Homo sapiens: one gene and its partners. The protein of the gene in region 6 interacts with the protein of the main gene of each other region in a pairwise test. Each region holds a gene or a part of one and is shown on either strand. Other genes may lie near its edges.

Region 1 (2,211 bases), on a different chromosome or scaffold from region 6:
TCTGCTGGCCTTTTCCCCGAGCCAAACACACTGGTGCAAGAAGGTATTTTCGACTTGGATTCGCCAGATTGATGTCAAAACTGAGGGCGAGCTTAAAACGAAAAACATTCGTACTTGCCGAGCTTACTTTTGGTCGGATTCGGGTGGGAAAACCTGACTTAGGGAGCACATCAGTCTTTTTCCATTAAAACTTAAAAGTATCTGAAATTACCCTTCTTTCTGTATTCTCATCAGGCCCCTTTCCGTCTCCCTGCTTTGCTCCCTAATTTAAAGGAAAAGTAATTTCAGATTGAAGTGGCTCCCTTCGCTCAAGTAAGGGACTTTTGTTTTTAGCTTTGTAACTTGAGTGACATCTCATTTTGGTTCGCTGGGGGCGGTCTTAATTATTTAAAGGCGAAGGGAAGGGGGTAAACTCAGAACAAGAAGATACTAAACCCTCCCCTGACTGTCCATCTTCAGGAAAGGTTCCCAAAGAAAAAACATTTAACACAAGGCCCAAAGACATTTCAATAAAAATTTATTGAAATTTCAGTGATGTTTTAAAGAGAGGGGGAAAAATACAGAAAACCAAAGAACTCATCAACAACTATAACACAAAATATACCTTCATGAATTTGTCTTTAAACCATCTCTCAGCACCTGACTTTTGAACTGTGAATATATCTCTATAGGCAGGCACCAATTCAAAACACCGATACTGACAACAGTAGTAAATTCCACTTCGTTTTGAGGAAATCAGAGACTAGCAAATACAAATAACAAAAGAAAAATTAAAAAGTCAAACCGCAGCCTCTGCCCTCCTCCCTCCCCACAGCAATCTCAGTTATATTTTAAGGAATTTGAAGTGGAGCTGGAAAGTGGCACTCCTTCCCCAATTTTGGTGAAAATAGGAAATAGCACTTTCCCCCACTTTTGGACATTAAAAAAGAAAACAAAAATGTTGCAGACAACTCTTTTGAAAGGGTATTGGTGTTGGTGCAGGAAGTGTGTTTTCTAGTGTTAACAGCAATTCTGTGACCTGGAAATAAACCCAACTAAAGGAAAACAAGAACACAAAACCTGACAGTTGCAATTCTATTTACACAGAGCTATGTACAATGTCAATAAATTAAAGTTTAATTTTCCAAGCATTCATATTCCACCTATTTACAAGAGTTATCAAATAATTACATAAATACTTTGTCTAATAGTCTCACTTCTTTATTATTTTTTTAAAACCTTGTTATTGCATATACAGGAAAGAGAAAGAACTGTCAAAGAACGACATGAATCCTGCTACAGAGCTTAGATATAATAAATTCATTTTATGTGTTTTGCCCACTCCTTCCCTTTAAATCCCCCCCTCCCTTGGGTCACTGATTTGAGGGCAAAGGATTGGGAAAAGGGTAGGGGGCTATATTGTTTTCTCTCTAAAAGCAAGCGTTCAAAATAAAAACCACAAATACATTACTGTGGACATGCAAGAAGAGACCTACAGCGGCTCTGAAAACATCACAAGAATATTAAAAAGACACAGATTTTCTTAATATAGACTAAACAAGGATGGTAGGGACTTCCCTCCCCAAACAAAGCTGCTCAGTAATTTATTGAGAACCGATAATGCAAGTCCCTATAAAGTTTTTAATCTGCACAAACAGAATCATGTTAATGTGTTCACTTGTCCCGATTTTTTTTTTGAAAGATTTTGTTTTTGTTTCCACTTGACACAGTGAAGGAAAAATATATATATAAATCCGCACTGAGGGAGATGTCTTTGAACACCTCCCCGCCTGGTGGGCAGAGACCCAGACCAGCCTTGCTGGAAGTTGCTCTGGACATAAATGTTGGAACTCCTACCCCCAGTAGCTCAATGCAACCGACGTTTCTGAGCCCCCAGAATCTGATCCAGATCCCGGACATATAAACCACGCCAAGAAGACAGGGGCTGTCTCTAGCACATTCTCTCGAGGGAGTCCGGGGCCCCTTCCCAGACGCAACTGCAAAAGGAAGGGCTAACGCCATGGCGGGCCCGTGGTTTATTTTATATCCGACAAAGTGCACGGCAGCCTGAACTGGACTGGAATGAAAAGACGTGTCTGGGACGGGTCTACGGGGACGCGCTGCGGGACCTGTCCGGCTTGGCTTCCAAGCCGCTAACCAACCGCTGGATGCTCTGCAGTTCGCTGGTGGCCGCCTCTTTCTCCGCGCAGAGTTTGGGCGACAAGGACATGG
Region 2 (3,500 bases), on a different chromosome or scaffold from region 6:
GAGGCAGCATCCAAGAGCTCTGAGTGGGCTGGCTCCCTGCATGTAGGGTCTGGAGTTGGTGGTGGCTGGAGTGGAGGCCCAAGAGGAGGGGCTGCAGGAACTGCTGCAGAGATGGAAGAGTGTGAGACCCAAGATGACGCTGCAGACCACGATCTTCAGCTCTGACCATGGAGGTGGCCTGGAGGGCCCCTGGTGGATGACCAGCACTGAATTCCAGGCCCCACTTTTCTACCAACTCACTGGGCAGACTTGGGCCTCAGTTTCCCCATCTGAAATCATTAAGTTGGACACAGTGGTCTCAGAAAGCCCTCACAGCCCTCATATCCTTATTTGCTAACTTAAACAGAGATCACCAAAAAAGATGTACTAGAATGTTCAGAGAACACTATTCATAATATCATAAAACTGAAACTACCCACATGTCCACCAACAGGAGAGCAGATTTTTAAAAAACAATGGTGCGGGCTGGATACGGTGGCTCATGTCTGTAATCCGAGCACTTTGGGAGGCCGAGGCAGGTGGATCACCTAAGGTCAGGAGTTCGAGACTGGCCTGGCCAACATGGTGAAACCCTATCTCTACTAAAAATACAGAATTAGGCGTGGTGGCACATGCCTATAATCCCAGCTACTCGGGAGGCTGAGGCAGGAGAATCGCTTGAACCTGCAAGGTGGAGGTTACAGTGAACTGAGATCACACCACTGCACTCCAGCCTGGGCGACAGAGTGAAACGCCATCTCAAAAACAAACAAACAAACAAAAAAAACACAGTGGTATGGGCCAGACGCAGTGGCTCACGCCTGTGATCCCAACACTTTGGGAGGCCAAGGTTAGCAGATCACTTGAGTCCAGGACTTCGAGACCAGACTGGGTGACACAGCGAAACACCATCTGTACTAAAAATACAAAAATTAGCCAGGCATGGTGGCACATGCCTATAGTTCCAACTACTTGGGAGGCTGAGGCAGGAGAATCGCTTGAGAGCCAGGGAGGTGGATGAGCCTAGGTCACACCACTGCACTCCAGCCTGGGTGACAGAGCCAGACCCTGTCTCAAAAAAAAAAAGAGCTTTTAAGAATTTAAATTAAAAAAAAATAGTGGTATGATCCACGGTGGAGTACTACACAGCAATGAAAGAGAACAAACTACAGCTACACGCAAAAACATGGATGAATCTTACAGATATAATGAATGTTGATGAATGTTTGTGAGAGATGAATAAAAACTAGATACCGGCCAGGCAGGGTGGCTCACGCCTGTAATCCCAGCACTTTGGGAGGCCGAGGTGGGTGGATCACAAGGTCAGGAGTTCGAGACCAGCCTGGCCAATATGGTGAAACCCCGTTTCTACTAAAAATACAAAAATTAGCTGGACGTGGTGGCAGGTACCTGTAGTCCCAGCTACTTGGAAGGCTGAGGTAGGAGAATGGCTTGAACCCAGGAAGCAGAGGTTGCAGTGAGCCAAGATTGCACCGCTGTGCTCCAGCCTGGGAGACAGAGCGAGACTCTGTCTCAAAAAACAAACAAACAAAACAAAAAAAACCCACAAAACAAAACAGATACAAAAAAACCCCTGCACACTCTATGTTTCACCAAAAATAGGTAAAGCTGATCTATGCTGAGAAAAGTCAGGATCGTATTTACCATCAGAGGGGTTGTAGTTAGTTGAATAGTGTCTCCCCCAAAATTCACATCTATCTGGAACCTCAGAATGTGACCTTATTTGGAAACAGGGTCTTTGAAGATAAAATTAGTTAAGATGAGGTCATGCTGGGTTCGGGTGGGATTGATCTAGTGACTGGTACCCTTATAAAAAGAGCTTGTGGAAACACAGGGACACACAAGGGAGAATGTGGAGATGGAGGTGGAGATTGGAGTGATGCGTCTATAAGCCAAGGAGTGCCAAGGAATACTGGCAGCCACCAAAGGCCAGAAGAGAAGCATGGGACACTTTCTCCTCTAAGCCCCCAAGAAGGAACCAATGCTGTCAACGCCTTGATTTCAGACTTCTGGCCTCCAGAGCTGTGTGAAAATAAATTTTTGTTGTTTTCAGTCACCCAGGTTGTAGTCTCTTTTTTTGGGGGTGGGGGTGGGCAGGGGAGGTTAGAGACAAGGTTTTGCTCTGTCACCCATAGCTCACTGCAGCCTCGACCTCCTGGGCTTAAGCAGATCCTCCTGCTTCAGCCTCCTGAGTAGCTGGGACTACAGGTGTGCATCATCATGCCTGGCAAATAAATTTTTTGTAGAGACAGGGTCACACCATGTTTCCCAGACTGGTCTCAAACTCCAGGCTTAAAGCAATCCTCCCGCCTCAGCCTCCCAAAGTGTTAACCATCACAACATGTGAGCCACCATTCCTAACTTCACAAATGAAGTCATTTGTGAAGGCAGCCCTTGGAAATGAATACTTCAAGGTAATGACCAGGAGGAGGTGCAAGACAAGCTTCTGAGGTGCTGGTAACGTGTTTCCTGATCTGGGTGTGTTCAGCTTAGGAAAATTCATGGCGTGGTACACTTGTGTGCCTTTGCCTGTCTGTATGGAATACTCCAACACAAGCAAAAAGAATAAGCAGAAATCTCTCAACCCCTTGTCGGAAACCAGATTTGGAGTGGAGACGTGGGAAAGAGAAGAGCTCAGGACTGACCTTTACTCTGTGGCTCTCCAGGGGCTCCACTGGCCAGCGTTGGGATTGGGGACACTACAGCCCCATCCTGGGCCTGGGTGTGTGGCCTCTGCTTGCTCTTGGCAGCCTCGACAGCCTTGAGTTTTCTGGCGTGTTTGTGGCCTTTATAATGTGCCTCGGCCTGGTTCTGGGGAGGGGAGGGCAAGAGGTCACCATTCACTGGCTGAGTCCACATGCCCCATCTGTGAACTGGAGCCCAGCAGGGGGACAGGTCAAAGGGAGGCAGGGCTCAGGTCACACAAAGGGCAAGTCCTTGTCCTTGTCATCATCATCACCATAGCACATGTGGCTCTGAGGTTTGCAGAATGTGTTCTCGCACATGAACTCCAAGGCAGGCTGCCTCTGGCTTCAGATCTGACCCAGCCACTTACTAACCACATCTTTTTGTTGTTGTTGTTGTTGTTTTTGTTTTTTGTTTTTTGAGATGGAGTCTCGCTCTGTCGCCCAGGCTGGAGTGCAGTGGCGCCATCTCAGCTCACTGCAACCTCCGCCTCCCGGGTTCAAGCGATTCTTCTGCCTCAGCCTCCGGGGTAGCTGGGACTACAGGCGCCCGCCACCACACCCGGCTAATTTTTTGTATTTTTAGTAGAGACGGGGTTTCACCATATTAGCCAGGATGGTCTCGATCTCCTGCCTCGTGATCCACCCGCCTCAGCCTCCCAAAGTGCTGGGATTACAGGCGTGAGCCACCACGCCTGGCCACTAACTACATCTTTAGGCAAGTAACATCTCTCTGAGCCTGAGTCTCCTCACCCATAAACCCTGTGATGATAATACTGACCTCATGGGGTTGTCAGAATTACATGGGAACATGAA
Region 3 (3,500 bases), on a different chromosome or scaffold from region 6:
ATTCCTTTGATTAAACATTTAATTATAATTAAAATTATAATATTAATAAACATGGAGTGGGTAACTACTATGTGCCAGACACTGTGCTGAAACCTTGACATACTGATGTCTTTTTCCTACCTTTCACCTCAATCTTATAAAAGAGACAGCATTTCTATCTATTTTCATAGATGAGAAAATTGAGATTCAAATAGATGGACTAACTTAGCCAGGGTCATAATTACTGAAGTACAGATCTGTGACTCAAACTCAGATTTGATATAACTTAAATTGTGCTATAATGTATGCCCTTTCCTACATATGGCCACCTACTATACAAAATATAGCAGAGGTCACAATTACTGTAAATGCGTATTACGATTTTCTCTTAATAAATCAATTTCAATAACATACAAAGACGTCACTTCCCATGATACAGTCTGCTTTAGTAATAATAACCCAAATTGTTTTCCCCCTTTCTTTTCACTATTAATTTTGGTGTGAATTTAGCTGGGATTAAAAAAGACAAGTTTGAAGCTTAAATAAAAATAGTTTATGCTAATTCACATTTTAGATATGGTTTAAAACTTGGATTCTGTCAGTATGGCTATGTGTAATAGAAGTGGTAATGTGTCCGGAATTGGTGGGTTCTTGATCTCACTGACTTCAAGAATGAAGCTGCGGACCCTCGCGGTGAGTGTTACAGTTCTCAAAGGCGGTGTGTCCGGAGTTTGTTCCTTCTGATGTTCGGATTGAGAGGTGACAGCGTGCTGGCAGCCCTCAGTAGTAATAGCGTTTTTTTTTTTTTAATAGTGATTTAAAAATCTATTTGCAGATGAAGTGTGTTTATCTGCAAATAGTCATCTCAACTCAACGCGAATGCACAAAGACCGATAAACTGGAACTAGGATATCCCTACCAAATGGCCTTATACCTGCCTTCAAATGTCATCTAAGTAAGATCTTAGAATCTTTCGAATGAGTTCATTACTCACCCGTAACTCCCTATCTTAAATGCAAATAGCTCACTGTTGAATAGTTCTTCCTTACACATGTAAAGAGTTCCTCAATATGGGCTGTTACATTTATTAAAGCATACAGTGAAAGAGGCAATATCTCTTCCCTTAGAAATGTTACCATTGGAAGAGATATTGTATTGCATAGGTATAAATATAGATTTTTCCAAATCTAGAAAGCCAATGTGAATTTATTCTATTTACAGTATAAACTCAGGTTACAGTGCAAATAATAGAGTTTCTTTTTCTATTCCTTTCGTAAACTTCTGTTTAAATAGCATCATCCAACATTAGGTTGGTTGGTCAAGCCATATCATTTGTAGGGACAATCTCAAACTCCTTGTTGGCCCAGCATTATTCTCTGAAGATACTTGAATACCATTATGTTATTCTCAGGGCCTATATAAACACAGATATGGTTATGATCCTATTGAACTAGAACAACCGTTTTCATTGAGTTTCTTCCAAGCATTTATACCAGTTTTTTGAACTTCAGATCAGGGAGTGGAAAGTGAGCTTACCATAAATAACTCACAAATAGGAATACACTGATAAATGGATCAAGGATGGTTGATCTAATATAAAATTTATTAGCTAGCTTTATCCCAAAATTCGAAAACGAAACCAGCATTTTCTTTTTTTTTTTTTTTTTTTGAGACAGAGTCTTGCTCTTTCGCCCAGGCTGGAATGCAGTGGTGTGATCTCGGCTCACTGCAAGCTCCACCTCCCGGATTCACGCCATTCTCCTGCCTCAGCCTCCCGAGTAGCTGGGACTACAGGCGCCCGCCACCACGCCCGGCTAGCTTTTTTTTTTGTATTTTTAGTGGAGATGGGGTTTCACCGTGTTAGCCAGGATGGTGTCAATCTCCTGATCTCGTGATCTGCCCGGTTCGGCCTCCCAAAGTGCCGGGATTACAGGTGTGAGCCACCACTCCTGGCCAAGCATTTTCAATTAGAAGGGGAATTGCCAAAGATTCTTCCCTAAGTTTAAATGATCTATACGCCAAAAGGCTTTGGCCTCTCAAAGGAAAGAAAATGTTTATGCTTAGAAGTAATCTGCCTTGGAATGCGAGAGCTGTTTGTTTGTATATTTCCTACTATGTACATAATGTTGCATTCATTCCTTAATAAATATATAGTAGTGAGTGAATACAGAAAGTTATAGTTCCTGTCTCTTTGCAGCTTATATTCAGTCAGGGAATATACATTAAATATCTAATTACAAAATTTATTATTTTCCTTATAGTTGTAGAAAGTACAGGAAGGTAAGAGAATATGATGAGGCAAGATCAATCCTCTGCAGGTCAGGAAGGCTTTGCTGTAGAAATGACTCCCGTGGGGCTCACAAAGAGAAGAGCATCCTATTGAGGAAGAATATAATAGTTGAGGTCTTTCGGTGGAAAGAGGAGTTAGACTAACTTAAAGAAAGCTGGTCTGGCTTAAAAAAAAAAAAAAAGAGGAAAAAAAGATGCGTGTATGTAAAGAAATGGGATAATAAAAGATGTGTAAATTCTCAGATAAGTTGGCTTCCAAATCTGGCATGAACGGGAATTATAAAATAGTTTAACTCTTGATAGTATAATTTCTTTGAGAGTATCACTGAATCCTAAATTACACTTTAAAATATGGCCATATAATAATTCCAAGTCTTTTCAAAACTAAGAATAAAGATAGGCTAAGTACTAACCGGGTCAAATGGCTGACTGACTACTATATTTTATGACAGTACAGGGCAGTGTTTCCATTTGGTGGTAAATCCAGTTTTCATTTTCAAAATAGTAACCTTGAATTAGCTTAACCAACTGACAAGTTTGGTTTTGATTTCAATGGCTTTGCAGGTACTATAACCATTGTATGCAGCTGAGGTGTTAACTAACCCCTGAAACATACTTGATGAGAATGGCAGGAAAATATTTTGGATAAACAACAATAAAAAAAAAAAAAGAGAGAAAAAATATCTACTTGATTTGGGGGTGGCTGGCTGCTTACTCTGGACTGATGTACAGGGAGTTTATTCATTCCCTGCTGCTTTCAAAAGGTTGTCGTTTTAGAATAAAAAAGCAGAGAAGGAGGGATAGCATTAGGAGATATACCTAACGCTAAATGACGAGTTAATGGGTACAGCACACCAGCATGGCACATGTATACATATGTAACTAACCTGCACATGGTGGACATGTACCCTAAAACTTAAAGTATAATAATAATAATAATAATAATAATAATAATAATAATAATAAAAAGCAGAGAAGGACAATTGGGTTTTCCTCCTGATGACAAAAGAGGAAGTTTCAATCAAAAGTATTTGATGCTCAAAATAGGGGAAAAAATAAGGTCCAACGATTATTCCTTTCCTTTCTAAATCTGGCAATACACTGAAAGTGAAGAGTTTGCGCTGGGCAACATTGTCATCTCCGTGGGGTCTGTAGTGAATTTGCACATTTTACTCCAACTAAACTACTGTATATCTAATCAGAAAAAGATGTCCCTCTTCCCCTGATCTAGC
Region 4 (2,435 bases), on a different chromosome or scaffold from region 6:
CACCATTTCCTGCAGGGCCGTGGTGCTGGGGTAATGGAGGGCGGCCATCTTGGTTGCCATGACTATGGTCTTGAGCTGCTCGCAGAGCTGGTTGCTGGAGTTCATGACTTTGTTGCGAATGTCCTGGGCAGTCACCTGCCGTGTCAGCGTGTCTCCAATGAACACCAGTTTGTGTGCACTGAGGATGACAAACTTGCTGTGTGCCACGAAGATTCGCGGGGGCTGGGCTGAGCTGACACAACTGAAGAGTGCGTCAATGGCGTTGAGAAGGGAAATGAAATGGGTCTCACATTGGTCATAGTAGAAGCACAGCAACTGCCGATCCTGAGCACTCACGCCACTGTTTGTGGTGGGTAGGCTCTGAGAGGGCTTCCACTTCGAGATGTCATTCTCCACGGGCTTTGTAATCTCTTGTTCCAACAGCTGGAACTGGCTCAGCTGCAAGGAAGACGAAAGCAGATCTCATTAGAGCAAGGGAGTGTGTTGCAATGGAAATTCACTAGGCCTTGGAGTTAAAAGACAGGGATTTTAGTCGCTAGTAACTGTCAGATGCATGTGAGCTGTAAAGCCTGGGTCAAGCTGCCTTGCTTTCCTAAATTGTAAAATGTAGACGTTGGGAAAGATGATCCTCAAGCTCAGACCTTCTATGATTGGACTACTGGTCTCTTGTACCCTCTGGCTAGAAGGTAGCATAGTGTTTAAACCGCAGCCCTGTTACCTACACCTTTATGGAGGTTAAATGAGTTAACGTTTACAAAATGCTTATAATAGTTTGGTATGTAGTAGGCTCTATGTAAATGTTTATTAATGTTGAGGGGTGGCAAGGGAAAACCAAATGTAGTGACCTCCTTGTCAAGTAAGTCACTGACAGTTTGCTCCTTCTCGGAGAAAGCCTCGACTATCTCAGGATGCTCAGATGAAATGACCATTCATGACCCCTTTCTGTTTATCCTACTCTTTCTGTCAAGATTGATAGACATGTTATGATCCAGCACTACAGGAAGATTAATGCATATAAATATATGAGCACTTAAGGAAAAAAAGTTTCTAAGGCAGTCTGAATGGGAATTGTGCATCATAATATTTAGTCCCCCAGAGCTGTTAAAAGAAGGGGGTTTTACCCAGAGTCAGATGCATCAGGTGCTGGCTTTCTTCCTTCTTTCCTCATTGCTACCAAATGGTGTATTATTTAAATTGCAATTATAATAATTTCTAGGGATTCCACTAAGACTCAAGAGAGACCTCTCTTCTGCAGATAAGGACTATCTGTGACCTGAGCTTCAGACTCAGTTAATCTCCCACCTGGACGTAGGGATGAGCTGGAGCAGTGATCACCTCACCCAGCTTCCCCAGCTTCTCTGAGAGATGCACAGCCAGCTTTACTTTACTTTTCTTTTTTTTTGAGACAGAGTCTTGCTCTGTCACCCAGGCTGGAGTGCAGTGGCACGATCTTGGCTCACTGCAAGCTCCGCCTCCCAGGTTCACACCATTCTCCTGCCTCAGCCTCCCAAGTAGCTGGGACTACAGGCGCCCGCCACCATGCCTGGCTAATTTTTTGTATTTTTAGTGAGACGGGGTTTCATTGTGTTAGCCAGGATGGTCTCGATCTCCTGACCTCATGATCCGCCCGTCTCGGCCTCCCAAAGTGCTGGGATTACAGGTGTGAGCCACCGTGCCCAGCCTTCAACAGCTTTACTTTTCTAGAATCTGTTTTCTTCTTAGCGATTGCTATGGTTTCTACAAGTTCCCCAAAGCCCTGCAGTCTTACCTTGCCAGATGCCAAGGCAAACATAAATAGGTACAAGGTGATATTCCAAGGTATTTAATCATAATGGATTATATTTTATATATCTTAGGCTTTATGCAAATATGTTCATCAATATATCATGTCATTAGATGGGGGGGGTACTTTCCCATTTTATAGGGAAGTAACTGAAGCTCGGGGAGGTTACCTGACTTGACATAGTTGGTTGGCCAGAAAGGATTAGAACTCAGATTTCCTAAATATAGCATGCCATTTCATGTCATTACATGCCATTTCACTTCATTTCATCTTAAAAGGCTTGTAAATAAATCCTCAATCCATCTCTCTTTATTTGTATGCCCTTGTTCTAGCAATAGTCGTCATTATCTCCCCTACTCATACCCAGCTTTTGAATGAACATGCCCTGCCCAAAGTCCTCAGTAGATAGGCCTGGATATATGTTGAAAACATTGAATTCTGCTCTCCTACCTTTAGATTGGACCAAGGCCAGGCAAACCATAGGCTTGTGTTGCTGGCGAAAGAGAGACAAATAGCGAGGTAGAGACAGAAAGAGAGAGAGAGAGAGAGAAAGAGAAATGGCCCAATCAACGTGGCCCAATCAGACTCTTTCTTGGGAATCTGATGAACAAGAGAAGGGAGCTAACCATCGGAAGAGGAAGCCGAGATGAAA
Region 5 (3,500 bases), on a different chromosome or scaffold from region 6:
GAGGTGCAGAAAAGTGCTGACACCCTTCAATGCCTCCTGTGTGTCACTCCACAGCCACCTGGGCCCACAGGCCTGCTCCTCCACCTTGCAGAAATCAACTTTTCCAACACTCGACCCTGTAGCCTGAATCTTCAAGTCACCAGTGTGCCTGCCCTTGTGCTGTGTGACTGAGCTGGAACAGCAAGTGGGGGTCTCTCCTGGGCACCCCATTCCCTCTCTGTACACTTGCTCCTGACCAAGTCCCACACACTGCCACCAAACTGCTCCCTAAACATCACTGCTGACCTGAATGCCTCTTCCCATGGCCTAGGGCCTCCCAGGAAGCGTACTTCCCTCCCTTCCTCACGGCCCAGCTTTACTGCGCCTCCCAGGCCCTGCTCTCTTCAGCCATGGCCTCCTGGCAGTGTATCTGGCACCCAGGTCCCACTCAAGTCCCAGGCCTACTCCTGGCTATCTGTAATGGGGGAGGGAGCAGAGCTCTGAGGCCTCCACAGCAGCTACTCAGTGCCCTGGAGGTAGCAGCACCCCTGTGGCTGCCCCAGGCTCCCCAGATAAACCACCCATCTCCTCAGTGAAGGCACAGCCCCAGGCTCGGACCAGGGGAACTGCACTTGGCGAGGAGGTGCTCCATAAATGCTTCATGAGCAACCACAGGCATTTAAGTAAGGTTCATATTGAATTGGGGGTTTTGGGATTTGGCCCCAAAGTGGAAAATGACGCCTCTGTTCTCCCAAAGCACAAACACTATCATGATTGAGTAGGAACAGAAATGTAATCTGTGGCACATCTGTTACGGGCACACAGTGCTGTCAGCCCCAGTGTGAGCCACGTGCACCGACCAACAGTGAGTGTAGCAGGCTGGAGGAGCTGCTGACAGAGGCTTGGAAGCCTCCGGAGTATCGACCACCTTTTGGAGAGCAAGCACAGGTCACTCTGGCCTTCTCTAGCGCATCACCTTCTGAAATGGTGCCACAGGTAAAGAATGCCATCTACTTTACAGCTTTTCTCCTCTATTGCCAGCGGTATCAGAGAGGCTTTCCAGCTTACCATGTACTACTTGTTGAGAACTTTTCACTCTTTCATTTACTCTCTGTACAATTGCTTATTCTTCAGAATGCACTAAGACGACACACTGCCAATAGGAAGCAGGTGTAGGGGCGGCCGGAGCCTAGTAGCCACAGTAACCCTGCCTCTATCTCAGAAGGCGGGGTTTGGCTTTCTTTCCTAAAACTGATTCTAATACAATGTGTAGTTTAGCATTTCTGGATGTGAGAGGTCGGAAAATATTCAGATATACTTAACAATTTACAACATTCTCAAAATACCTGGTCAAAATCAGAACTTTGAGACACGGTCTCCCTCTCACCCAGGCTGGAGTACGGTGGTGCAATCATAGCTCACTGCAGCCTTGACTGCCCAGGGCTCAAATGATCTTCCCATCTCAGACTCCTAAGTAGTTGGGACTACAGGTGTGTGCTACCACACCTGGCTAATTTTTTAGACAGGGTCTCACTTTGTTGCCCAGGCTGACCTCGAACTCCTGGGGTCAGGTGATTCTCCTGCCTCCGCCTCCCAAAGTGCTGGGATCAAAAACACAAGCCATTGTGCCCAGCCCAAGAACAATTTTGCAAAGATTCCTGCCTGTGGCTGACATTGTCAATCTGGGCCCCAGTCTCCCTTTTCTAAGTTCCCAGGACCTGCTGCGTCCAACATTCAGAGGCGATGTGCACAGCTGGCCAAGCTGCTTCAGCAGATGCTTACCTGGAGGTGGGTGGGCTGGAGGCAACGGTGGATGAGTGGTCTCAATTTTGGGGATTTTAGGTGGTGGTGGTTCTACAAAGAAAAAGCAGATTAGAAAACCACTCATACTTCTTCACATGAATAAGCATGTCATAAAGAAAAATGTACTGGCAGAGATTTCTTTGGGAGAAAAACAACAGAGATGACCAAGGCTTTAAGGGAACTTGAAGAAGGTTTCAGCTAAACCATTATGCATGAATCCTGTTAACAAATTAAATGCCACCTCCCTCCAAAAGACCTGCGAGCTTCCCACAGGCAGCCCATTTTCCATGTCTACCTAAGTTTCCTTGCTGACCACTTCACTCAAGTCCTTCCGACCATGTGAGACCAGCAGAGCAACGTCTTCATGAGCATGTATGACCTATCTGGAGTCCTCCCTGGTACAGAGGACACAAAGAAGGGTCCAGAGTAGCAACATCATGTCACTGAGTCCCCTGAGGGTTCCACAAGAGAATCTCTATCTTTTCATTCTTAGACATAGTTTATTCTCTCTTTCCCAAATACTGACTTCCAGTTGGCAGCATGTCAGAAGCAGCACATTAACTGGAGTCAGCAGAGCTCTGGAGGTTGACACACTGATGGCAGGAAGAATGTGCCGCTCACAAAAGCCCAGCAGTCAGGACCCCTTGAGGTGGAGGAAACAGCCCACCCTTCCGGGGTCAGGCAGCGGCACGCAGCCAGAATCCACAATGACAGCACTAGGTCTCCAAGGCAGCCCAAGGGAAGTCCAATCTCATCCGTTTAAGAAGGCAGCGTGCACATCACAACTGAAAAAGAACCCTATTTTTCTGTTTGCATGCTGAGGCTTTTTCTTCCTGAAATGTACTTTCTTCTGGCTTGTACACCACTCAGATCTGAGTCTCCTCTGCCATCACTGGCCTCTTTCTCTGGATTTCCTCCATCTCAAATACAGGCTCAATTTAAGTTCCAGGGACTTCCTCTCTCTTCACCCTCTTCCTCAGAGTCCAAAGCCCCTCTCTAAGTGGACAACTACAAACCTACATTTCTAGCGTCCATCTTGCCACCAAAACCATGGCCCATCCCTAGACCCACCAATCAGCACCTCACACTCTACCTTTTGCCTCTGTATCCTATAACTGCTATTACTCTCACCTCAGGGACCCACCTCCTGCCTTTTTCCACAGCTGGTAATAGTTAGCTAAAGCCGTCTACATCAGGGCTGTCCAACAGCAATATAACTGAGAGCCACATATCTACAATTTTAAACTTTCCAGGAGCCATTTTATTTTTTGAGACAGGGTCTCGCTCTGTCACCCAGGCTGGAGTGTAGTAATGTAATCATGGCTCACTGCAGCTTCAACCAACCAGGCTCAAGTGATCTTGCTGCCTGAGTCTCCCAAGTAGCTGGGACCATAGGTGTGGCGCCACCACGCCGAGCTGATTTTTAAGTTTTGTGTAGTGATGGGGTCACCCTATGTGGCCCAGTCTGGCCTGGAACTCCTGGGCTCAAAGCATGCCTTGGCCTCCCAAAGTGCTGGGATTACAAGTGTGCCAGGAACCACTTTAACAAGAAAAAGGAGCACTCCAGCCTGCATTAACAGAGCAAGACTCTGGAAATAAAAGGAAAAAGGATAAAATTTATTTAACCCGATAGATCGAAAATTTTATTTCAACATGTAACCAATATAAAGCTTTACTAATGAGATGTCTTACGTTCTCCTTTCTTGGAAATCTCTGTG
Region 6 (4,291 bases):
AAAATCCTCCACACAGGAGAACTCCACAGAACTTAGGTAGCTATTCCCCTGCAAGGAGATAAAGCAAAACTTCCCTTTTCTTTACGTATAGGCTACAGGTAGCGACTTCCAGAAAGCACAGTAGAGAAAGAGGTGGGAAAATCACTTTATGGTGGAGAAACCTAATCAACACTGCCCCAGCCCGGTGACCAGGACTAATAGCAGCAGTGATAAGCCGGCTTGATGGTGTGTACTCTAGACAGGATGGGATGGGAATGGCGCTTTCCCGCTGCAATCTTCCTGACAAAAACATATAATTCCAGTCAGATCACAAGGAATACATCACACGAACTTCAGGAGAGGACATCCCACAATATATCTGATCAGTATTCAAAGTGTCAGAGTCATCAAAAACAAGGCAAGTGTGAGAAACCGTCGCAGCCAAGGGGAACCGTGACGAGTTGTAAGGTGGTACCCTGGATGGGGTCTTGGGACAGAAAAGGTATGTGAGGTGAAAGCATAGCAAAACCTCACTTCAACAGGAAATACAACCCAAAAAAGTAATTGGCCCGGCATGGTGGCTTGCGCCTGGGGTCCCAGCGACTCGGGAGGTTGAGCGGGACGGACGGCTTGAGCTCAGGCCTTCCAAACAAGCCTGGGCACATAGCGAAAACTCGTCTCTCCAAAAAAATCCGAAAATTATCCCGATGTGGTGGCGCTCACCTGTAGTCCAGCTACTCCGGAGGCCGAGACAGGAGAATCACTTGAACTGATTCTCCTATCTCAGCCACCCCCCCCCAACCCCCCCAAGTAGCCGCAGCGAGCCGAGATGGCACCGCTGCACTCCAGCCTGGGCTACAGAGCGAGAACCAGTCTCTGTAAAAAACACAAGGATGCAAACCAACCAAATAACCCACTGTGGGATCCCCTCCAGCGTCCTGCTGTGTTTCCCGCTGTCTTCCTCCACCCGTGAGTGCACCCACAGCAATAAAAGCCAGCGGTGTGGGTCTCACACGCATCTCCAGCCCCGTCTCACACGCACCACCTCCGGGCCTGGACTTGGCCTCCCGTCCATTCCCAGAATGTGCCGGGCTCCCTTCCAGTCCGGGCCTCAGCACACTCTCTTCACTCCCCTTCCTCCCTCCCTGCCTCTCCCAACCCGGTTCAGGATGACTAATTTCAAACGTTATGTTCCAGATTTCAGCCCAGATATCCCCGCTTTGGATGCTTTCCTTGACCATGCTCAGATCTAAGCTAATCGCATCTTCCTGTCAGCCGCTTTCAGGGCACCACACCTCATTGTGCTGACACTCAGAGGTCATTATGCAATTTTTTTTCCTCGATGATTAGATTAATCAATCAACCACGGACGTCTAGAAATGGCGGCATCTCAGAAGGGCCCCCATTTGACTGGCAGGGGACTGGCCCAATGCGCCTCGCAAGCCCAGCCAGGCCCGCCCCAGCCGGCCCCCCTCTGACGACGCCTGTCCCTTACGCGACTGCCTTGCTGCCATATAAGAGGGACGGCGCTCGGCCTCCAGCAGTCGGCTTTCTGCTGGGCTCGGAGCCAGAACCTGCTGCGTGCTCCCTCCAGACTCCCTGGCTGCGGGTGGACTACCTCAGAGCTACAGCGGTGAACCTGTGGACACCTCCGACTCCTCGGGCCTCTCTTCGTCGAAGAGTCTCCTAATTTTCAGATCTCCGGAGCCAGCTGTGGGAAGATCAGGTGTGTGTCTGGGGGTCCCGGAGGCGTGGACGGATCTCGGGTGGGTGCAGTTGGGGACAGAATCCTCATTCCCCTAGAAAGGCCACGGCCATCCCCCTGCCTTGTCACCTCTGTCTTCCTAAATCCGTTCTTGCTCTCTTGTTTTTCTCCCCAGCCCCTCCCGCCGATTGCTCATGGAGGAACCAAGGCCTTCGAAGCGACTTCGCTCCATGGCCCCTAATCAAGGTACATCAAACGCCTGCCACTCCTCTCTTTTTAATTTCGTCTGTTCCCCAATTCTTCCCCAATGGTTGACACTCAAACTCAATCAAGCATTCTCTGTTTCACCTTCTCCTAGCCTGCCTCAACCTGGGCTGCTTGTTGGAAGTCAGCTCCCGGGTTCCACATCATCTGGGAAATTCCTTTCCCTCTTCCGAACCGTAATCCCATTTCCCAAATCTGAGATTTGCTGTTGTTGTCGCTGTTTCCTTCTGTTTAGTTTTGTATTACTGTTTCTCCGTAGCAGAGCGAGTCCTCACGCTACGTCTTGATCTATGATAAACCGGTACTTCCACCTTGTTCTTTCCCGGAGGAGTTGGAATTTTCCGGCTGTTGCCACGTTGTTCTCCAAAACTTTTCCCTTCATACGCTGAGTGTCCTAAATCTTTTAATCTTGTCTAGTTTGACAGATGCATAACAATAAAGCATCCACTGAAAGGAAATTCTTTAACATCTTGCTTGTCTGAAACATCTTCATTCTCCCCTCCCAGATTCTTCAGCGAAACTTCGGTTGGACAGGAAATTTTAGGTGGGAAATTCATTTCCCTTGAAATTTCGAAGACATTTTCTGTTATGTTCTAGACTGAACTGCTGCTTTTGAGATGTCTGACTTTTGAGACATGTGGAATCCTAGCCCTTTCCATGTGACTTTTCCTTTCTCTGTCTCCCGCTCTCTAGAATCTGTTAGAATCTTCTCTTTTTCCTCAGCACTCTGAAATTTTCTGGTGAAATGTCTCAGCCACAGCATACCTCTAATTCTCTTATATTTCATCCTTCTTTCCATCATTTTAGGTTTTTGCTTTGTTCTGTGGGAGACCTTCTCAACTTCATTCTCCAACTTCCGTGGAGAGTTTTGTTTCTTCTCTCACAATTTTAACTTCAGAAATCCCTCTTTTCTCTGAGTATTTATTTGTAAAAGTATCCTATAACTGCTTGACGGGTGAAGTTCCTTCTGTCTCTCTCTGCTCACGCTCCGCTTCTCTTTTAGCCTCAGGTGGGCCTCCTCCAGAGCCAGGCTGCTGTGTTGCGGACCCTGAAGGCTCCGTGGAAGCAGATGGGCCCGCACAGCCAGCCCAACCCGCAAAACCCATCGCTTACGTGAAACCCTTCAGACGGCAGCCCCCAGCTCGCCCAGAGTCACCCCCTCCTGCAGAGAGAGGCCGGCGCCGGGGAGGAAGCCGGCGGCCAGGGCGAGGCCGTGGCAGAAGGGCTGGGCCCCGCGGGGACGCTGGCCAGAGACAGGGGGCAGAAGGCTTGATGGCACCGGACGTGCACATCCAACTGGACCACCATGGAGAGCCAGGCCACCAGGGGGAACCGGAAATCACGGAGACCGCAGCCTTCTCCCTTTCTGAAACAGGTCCTCCGCCTGGAACTGTGCAGGAAGGCCCTGGCCCCGACGTGGCGCAACCTGAGCTGGGGTTTCAGGAGCCGCCCGCTGCTCCTGGGCCTCAGGCTGTTGACTGGCAACCCGTCTTGACCCTCTATCCCTGCATCGGGTTTAGGGCTCTGGGTGACTCAGCGGTTTTACAAGTCATTCAAACCCCCCAGGGCACCTACGTGCAAGGGGTCCCAGTGTTCCTCACCGACATTGCGTATTGACCACTATCTGCCACCCACGTTGTTCCCAGCCTCCCTTCCTTCCACCTGGACGTTCCCCCCAGCCCCACTTCTGCTCCACTCCTCCCCCGACTGGACCTGAAGCCTGAGCTTCCCCTGAACTTGGAGTACGCAACTTACAACATGCAAGCTGCCAAACACCCTTTCTGTACAAGGCGATTGGAATGGAACTGTCATGTACAGTGAAAGTACACGTCACGTTTTTCAGCCAAGAAGAAGCCAACCCAGACAACCTGGAAGAAGTGGGATGCAACAAGGATCACTAAGCATGGAAATTAGGAAACTGTATTCTTAAGTCCAGAGAAGTACGATTCTGGAAAAAGGATTGATGACCTAGAATTAAAATTCCAGAAGACACTCATATAGACATGTGGGACATGCGAAAACTCAGAAGGAGCTAGAAGTTACTAAAGTGCTTCTCTAGTGCCTGGAGACGATAGACTGGCTGAATATAAGAGCAATAAAAATCTAGACTGACACATTTTTAAGTCTCAACGTGGGTACCCTTTGGGAACCACTAAATGAATTGGAATAGAAGGTAAAATTTCAAACAGATTGAGGAAAAAGGGGATCAAAGGACATGTGACGAATCAGACAAAAGGTGTTGGGGTGGGGGGGGGGGCGGTTAACGGAAGCAAGGAGAGTGCATGACTCACTGGAACCGCTAAACCAGGAATCAGTAATTTGACGGCAGTGTCCTTGGCTTCC
Region 7 (3,500 bases), on a different chromosome or scaffold from region 6:
GTGTAACCTATTCTATGCACACACACACACAAAATGCATACACCAAAGGAAAAACCCCAGGAGGAAACACAGAAAATGACCACCAGGTCATTTGTTCATTGATTCCCTCTTCCGTTCATTCCGCAAGCATTCACTGAGAGCATGCAGCATGCGGGCCCTGTGCGAGGCGCGGTAGTGACAGTGGTGATGAGGCAGTCCTGAGTTCAGCTGTACAGAACACAGGGACCTGCACATGTGCCAGTGTTGCAAACAGGCAATGGTGGCATCTAAACTGAGCTCTGAGGACCCAGAAGGGACTGCCCAGGGTTCACAAGAAGCTTGCATGGGGCCTGTGGTGTGGAAAACCTGAGGGCTCTCTGGGGAACTGAGCCTAACATAGTTCTGCAGTGGGAGAGTGCCCGGGGAGGGGCAGGATCCAGAAGCCAAAATAAAATGGACCTGACTGTTTTTAGAAATAAATGATTCATTTTTTAAGTGTGGCTATAAAGACTACGCAATAGTATGGGAAAAAAAAGCTTATAATACAATGTTAGTGTCAGATATAAACATGTTGTAAAACAAAACAGGAAAAAAGCCTATCTACCAAATAAACAAAAACATGAAAGAAAACATACCAAAGCAATAGATATGTGAAAAATAATTTTTACTATGTACATACACCATATAACATATAGTATACATAGTATGTATACATAATATACCATATAATACACTATATATGTAATGTGCTATATACTATGATGATGCTAGTATCATGGAATTTGGGGGAGTTTTTTCTCAACTTTCCAATATTTTCAAACTACTCTAGTCTTATTTTAGCATTTTGTTTTGTTCTGCAGTCAACTGTTTTAAAGGCGGCAGTGCCCTTTTCTGCTTGGTCGGGGTCAGAATTCTGTAAGGGATTCTCACGGCCCAGTGGAGCTGAAGCCTCTGTGACTTCAGAGATGCTACTTTCCTAACTGCTCCAGGAAATCATTCTGAGGTGAATTCCTCCCACTGTCTACTCTCCTTTGGAAAAGAGGAGTCCTAGCCCCCACGCTGGAGTGCTCTGGCTGGAGTTTCCTGGGAGCGGAGGGGCCTTCCCAGTGGGTGGACTATTTCTCATGGGGGCTTCACAGTCTGTTTCACACTGCCTAGAGAGACCCCTCCTCTGCCAAGCCTGGAACTGAGCATTCCCTGGGCCACAGGAACAAAAGGAGAGCTTTGGAAGAAGGGTGAAATGCCTGGGCACTCAGATCAGATCAGATCAGCTTTTAGGCAAAGTGCATTTCATTTTCTGTTCATTCATTCACTCAGTAAACATGCAAAAAGCACCTACTATGTGCCAGGCTCCAGTCTACATAAGACTGGTGACTCTCAACACTGACTGAATTCTAAGTAGTTGGAAATGACTGGAGAGTAGGGTGAGTGTGCAGTGTGGCCTGGAGAATGCATGTGGAGTTCAGAGTAGGAAGGTCCCCTGTGGAGGCCCAGAGAAAACTTCAGGGCTAGATGCAGTCCTGAAACAGCAGCCCTGGCCCTGCCCATGCTTGAATGCAGGAAGAGAACCTGAAATGTGGGGACAAAGAGCAACTGGCCAAGAACAGAGCCGGTGATGCTCAGGGGAGGGACACCCTCCTGTCAGCCCTCCCCACCCACCCCTTCTATGCACCAGCCTGTATCCAGTAACATGTCGCAAGGTCTTTGCTGGAAGCTCAAGCCTCCTCTGCTTTCTAAGCATGGAGAAGACAGAGACCAGTGTGAAGTATAGGTCAAGAAAAAAAATAAAGAGAAGGAGAAAACAGAGAAAATGCATAAAGATTCCCAGCTTTAAACCTTCTTCCACCTCCATCGTTGCCCCAAATTCCTCCAGGGCTCTCTGTCATGAAAATTTCAGAAAGTGCATGAGAAAACTTTGCAAATGAAGTCAGGGGTCACAGGCAGGGGAAAGTACTGGTCTCAGACTAGGCCAGATAAAGAAAAATATCAAAGACATCAGGAGAGCACCGACCTCGCCCATGGGATGCCTGCCGCAGTGAGATGCCACGCACCTGGCCTAAGTGAGAGGTGGACACACTCCCCTGGCAGCCACCATCTGGGGGTTCAACCTCATGTGTGTCCAGAGCTCTTGATGGGTGATGGAGGGATGGGCAGAGGCTGCTTCATCCCCACTGGAATCAGGCACCTCCTGCCGGGTGTTGACACAGATGTGAGGAAGGAAGGAAGCCACACCTATGGCAGACTGAGCTCTGTGGCTTACTCTGCCTTGGCGTGTCATGGGGCCACTGACCCCCATCACACTAGATTTTTCCAACCCCAGCAAACACACAGAACTCAGCCACCCTCACAGAGTCTCAAAAATAAAGGCTCTAGTGCTTGGCAAGTAAGAAATTAGGTCCATGCATGTGGCAAAAGTTAGACACAGTGAGCTTTGCTGGTTTTTCCCTCTGTTTTCCTTCCTCGGCAACATTCTTAAAAGAAAAATCAAAATAGTAATTACAACAAAAATGTCCTTGTTATCCTTCAGAGAGCACGGCACTGTATTTTCTTCACTCTAATGACTATTGCATCTATTTCCAAGCTTCAGACTATTAATAATACACAGGAATACCAAGAAGCAAATTAAAACAGAAAGGCACAAAAAGTAGAATGGGAAAGACGTGGGTTTGAATCTCACCTCCACGCATTTATTATGGAGCTTCAGTTGTGTAATGCAACTTCTCTGAATACTGGGCAATCGTGAAATGAGTGGGAACATAATGCATTTAAATAGGATAATAATATCTAGAAGGAGGCTCCCACCTCACCCGGCCCATGTCAGTGCCTCAGGAACGTTCATTTATTTCTTTGTGATCAAGGGACAGGAACAAAATGTACGGCATGGAGAAGTAAACAAAAGAATCAATGACTGTACACAGCCATGCTGCTGGGACATGGGACACCTTCTCCAAGCCCAAGATGGAGAGAGGCAAAGTCTTCCATAGACGGAACATCACTCTCCTAACTAAAATAGTTGCATTCTCAAAGATACAAAATGTGCCACTTTCTTAACTGAATAAACGCAGGCAGCATGGCGAGGAAGGACGGCCCAGCAGGCCTTGCCCAGTGTACCCTGAGAGAACACCAAACATTCTGCTCTTAGGTGCTCCATCCACCTACACTGTTTTATTCCCATGCCTTCACCAGATGTTGAAATGTGCTGCCAAATCAAACCTAGACGTAAGACAAACCAAAATAACAAGGAAAGCTTGCTGGTTAAGACTGAGAAACAGCGTGGGGTGGGCAAAAGCTAAGATGCTCGGGTATGAGTCTCAACTTCAGTGTTTCTAGATGGCCTTGGGCAGGTCCTTGTCCTTCAAAGATCTTGCTCAGCTGCAAAATGAGGAGGCTGCACCAGGTGTCCTCTATGGTCCTAAATACTATAAGGCGCCGAGTGACATCTTTATGTGGCATTATGATGCATCTTTTGTGATCAATCTGGTTTTTTAGACATTATTTTGACAAGCTAAAGGGCAAAAAAT

What was found.
Region 1: the proteins of PRR20A (region 6) and TBX3 interact in a two-hybrid assay, tested with the Homo sapiens proteins (one large-scale study listed by BioGRID).
Region 2: the proteins of PRR20A (region 6) and ZNF385C interact in a two-hybrid assay, tested with the Homo sapiens proteins (one large-scale study listed by BioGRID).
Region 3: the proteins of PRR20A (region 6) and SOX5 interact in a two-hybrid assay, tested with the Homo sapiens proteins (one large-scale study listed by BioGRID).
Region 4: the proteins of PRR20A (region 6) and NEDD9 interact in a two-hybrid assay, tested with the Homo sapiens proteins (one large-scale study listed by BioGRID).
Region 5: the proteins of PRR20A (region 6) and CCNK interact in a two-hybrid assay, tested with the Homo sapiens proteins (one large-scale study listed by BioGRID).
Region 7: the proteins of PRR20A (region 6) and ZNF488 interact in a two-hybrid assay, tested with the Homo sapiens proteins (one large-scale study listed by BioGRID).

Annotation. Positions count from the first base shown.
Region 1 is NC_000012.12:114,669,755-114,671,965, forward strand, and holds the end of TBX3 (T-box transcription factor TBX3), read right to left. Parts: coding exon 2,087-2,211; 3' UTR 501-2,086; downstream 1-500.
Region 2 is NC_000017.11:42,028,974-42,032,473, forward strand, and holds part of ZNF385C (zinc finger protein 385C), read right to left. Parts: intron 2,812-3,500; coding exon 2,646-2,811; intron 104-2,645; coding exon of another isoform or gene 101-103; coding exon 1-100.
Region 3 is NC_000012.12:23,537,171-23,540,670, forward strand, and holds part of SOX5 (transcription factor SOX-5), read right to left. Parts: intron 1-3,500.
Region 4 is NC_000006.12:11,185,234-11,187,668, forward strand, and holds part of NEDD9 (enhancer of filamentation 1), read right to left. Parts: intron 439-2,435; coding exon 1-438. UniProt on the Homo sapiens protein: Scaffolding protein which plays a central coordinating role for tyrosine-kinase-based signaling related to cell adhesion. As a focal adhesion protein, plays a role in embryonic fibroblast migration.
Region 5 is NC_000014.9:99,505,409-99,508,908, reverse strand, and holds part of CCNK (cyclin-K), read right to left. Parts: exon of another isoform or gene 1,834-3,500; coding exon 1,762-1,833; exon of another isoform or gene 1-1,761. UniProt on the Homo sapiens protein: Regulatory subunit of cyclin-dependent kinases that mediates activation of target kinases.
Region 6 is NC_000013.11:57,139,427-57,143,717, forward strand, and holds the start of PRR20A (proline-rich protein 20A), read left to right. Parts: upstream 1-1,491; 5' UTR 1,492-1,705; intron 1,706-1,859; 5' UTR 1,860-1,878; coding exon 1,879-1,930; intron 1,931-2,951; coding exon 2,952-3,565; 3' UTR 3,566-4,291.
Region 7 is NC_000010.11:47,370,794-47,374,293, forward strand, and holds part of ZNF488 (zinc finger protein 488), read right to left. Parts: intron 1-3,500. UniProt on the Homo sapiens protein: Transcriptional repressor. Plays a role in oligodendrocyte differentiation, together with OLIG2. Mediates Notch signaling-activated formation of oligodendrocyte precursors.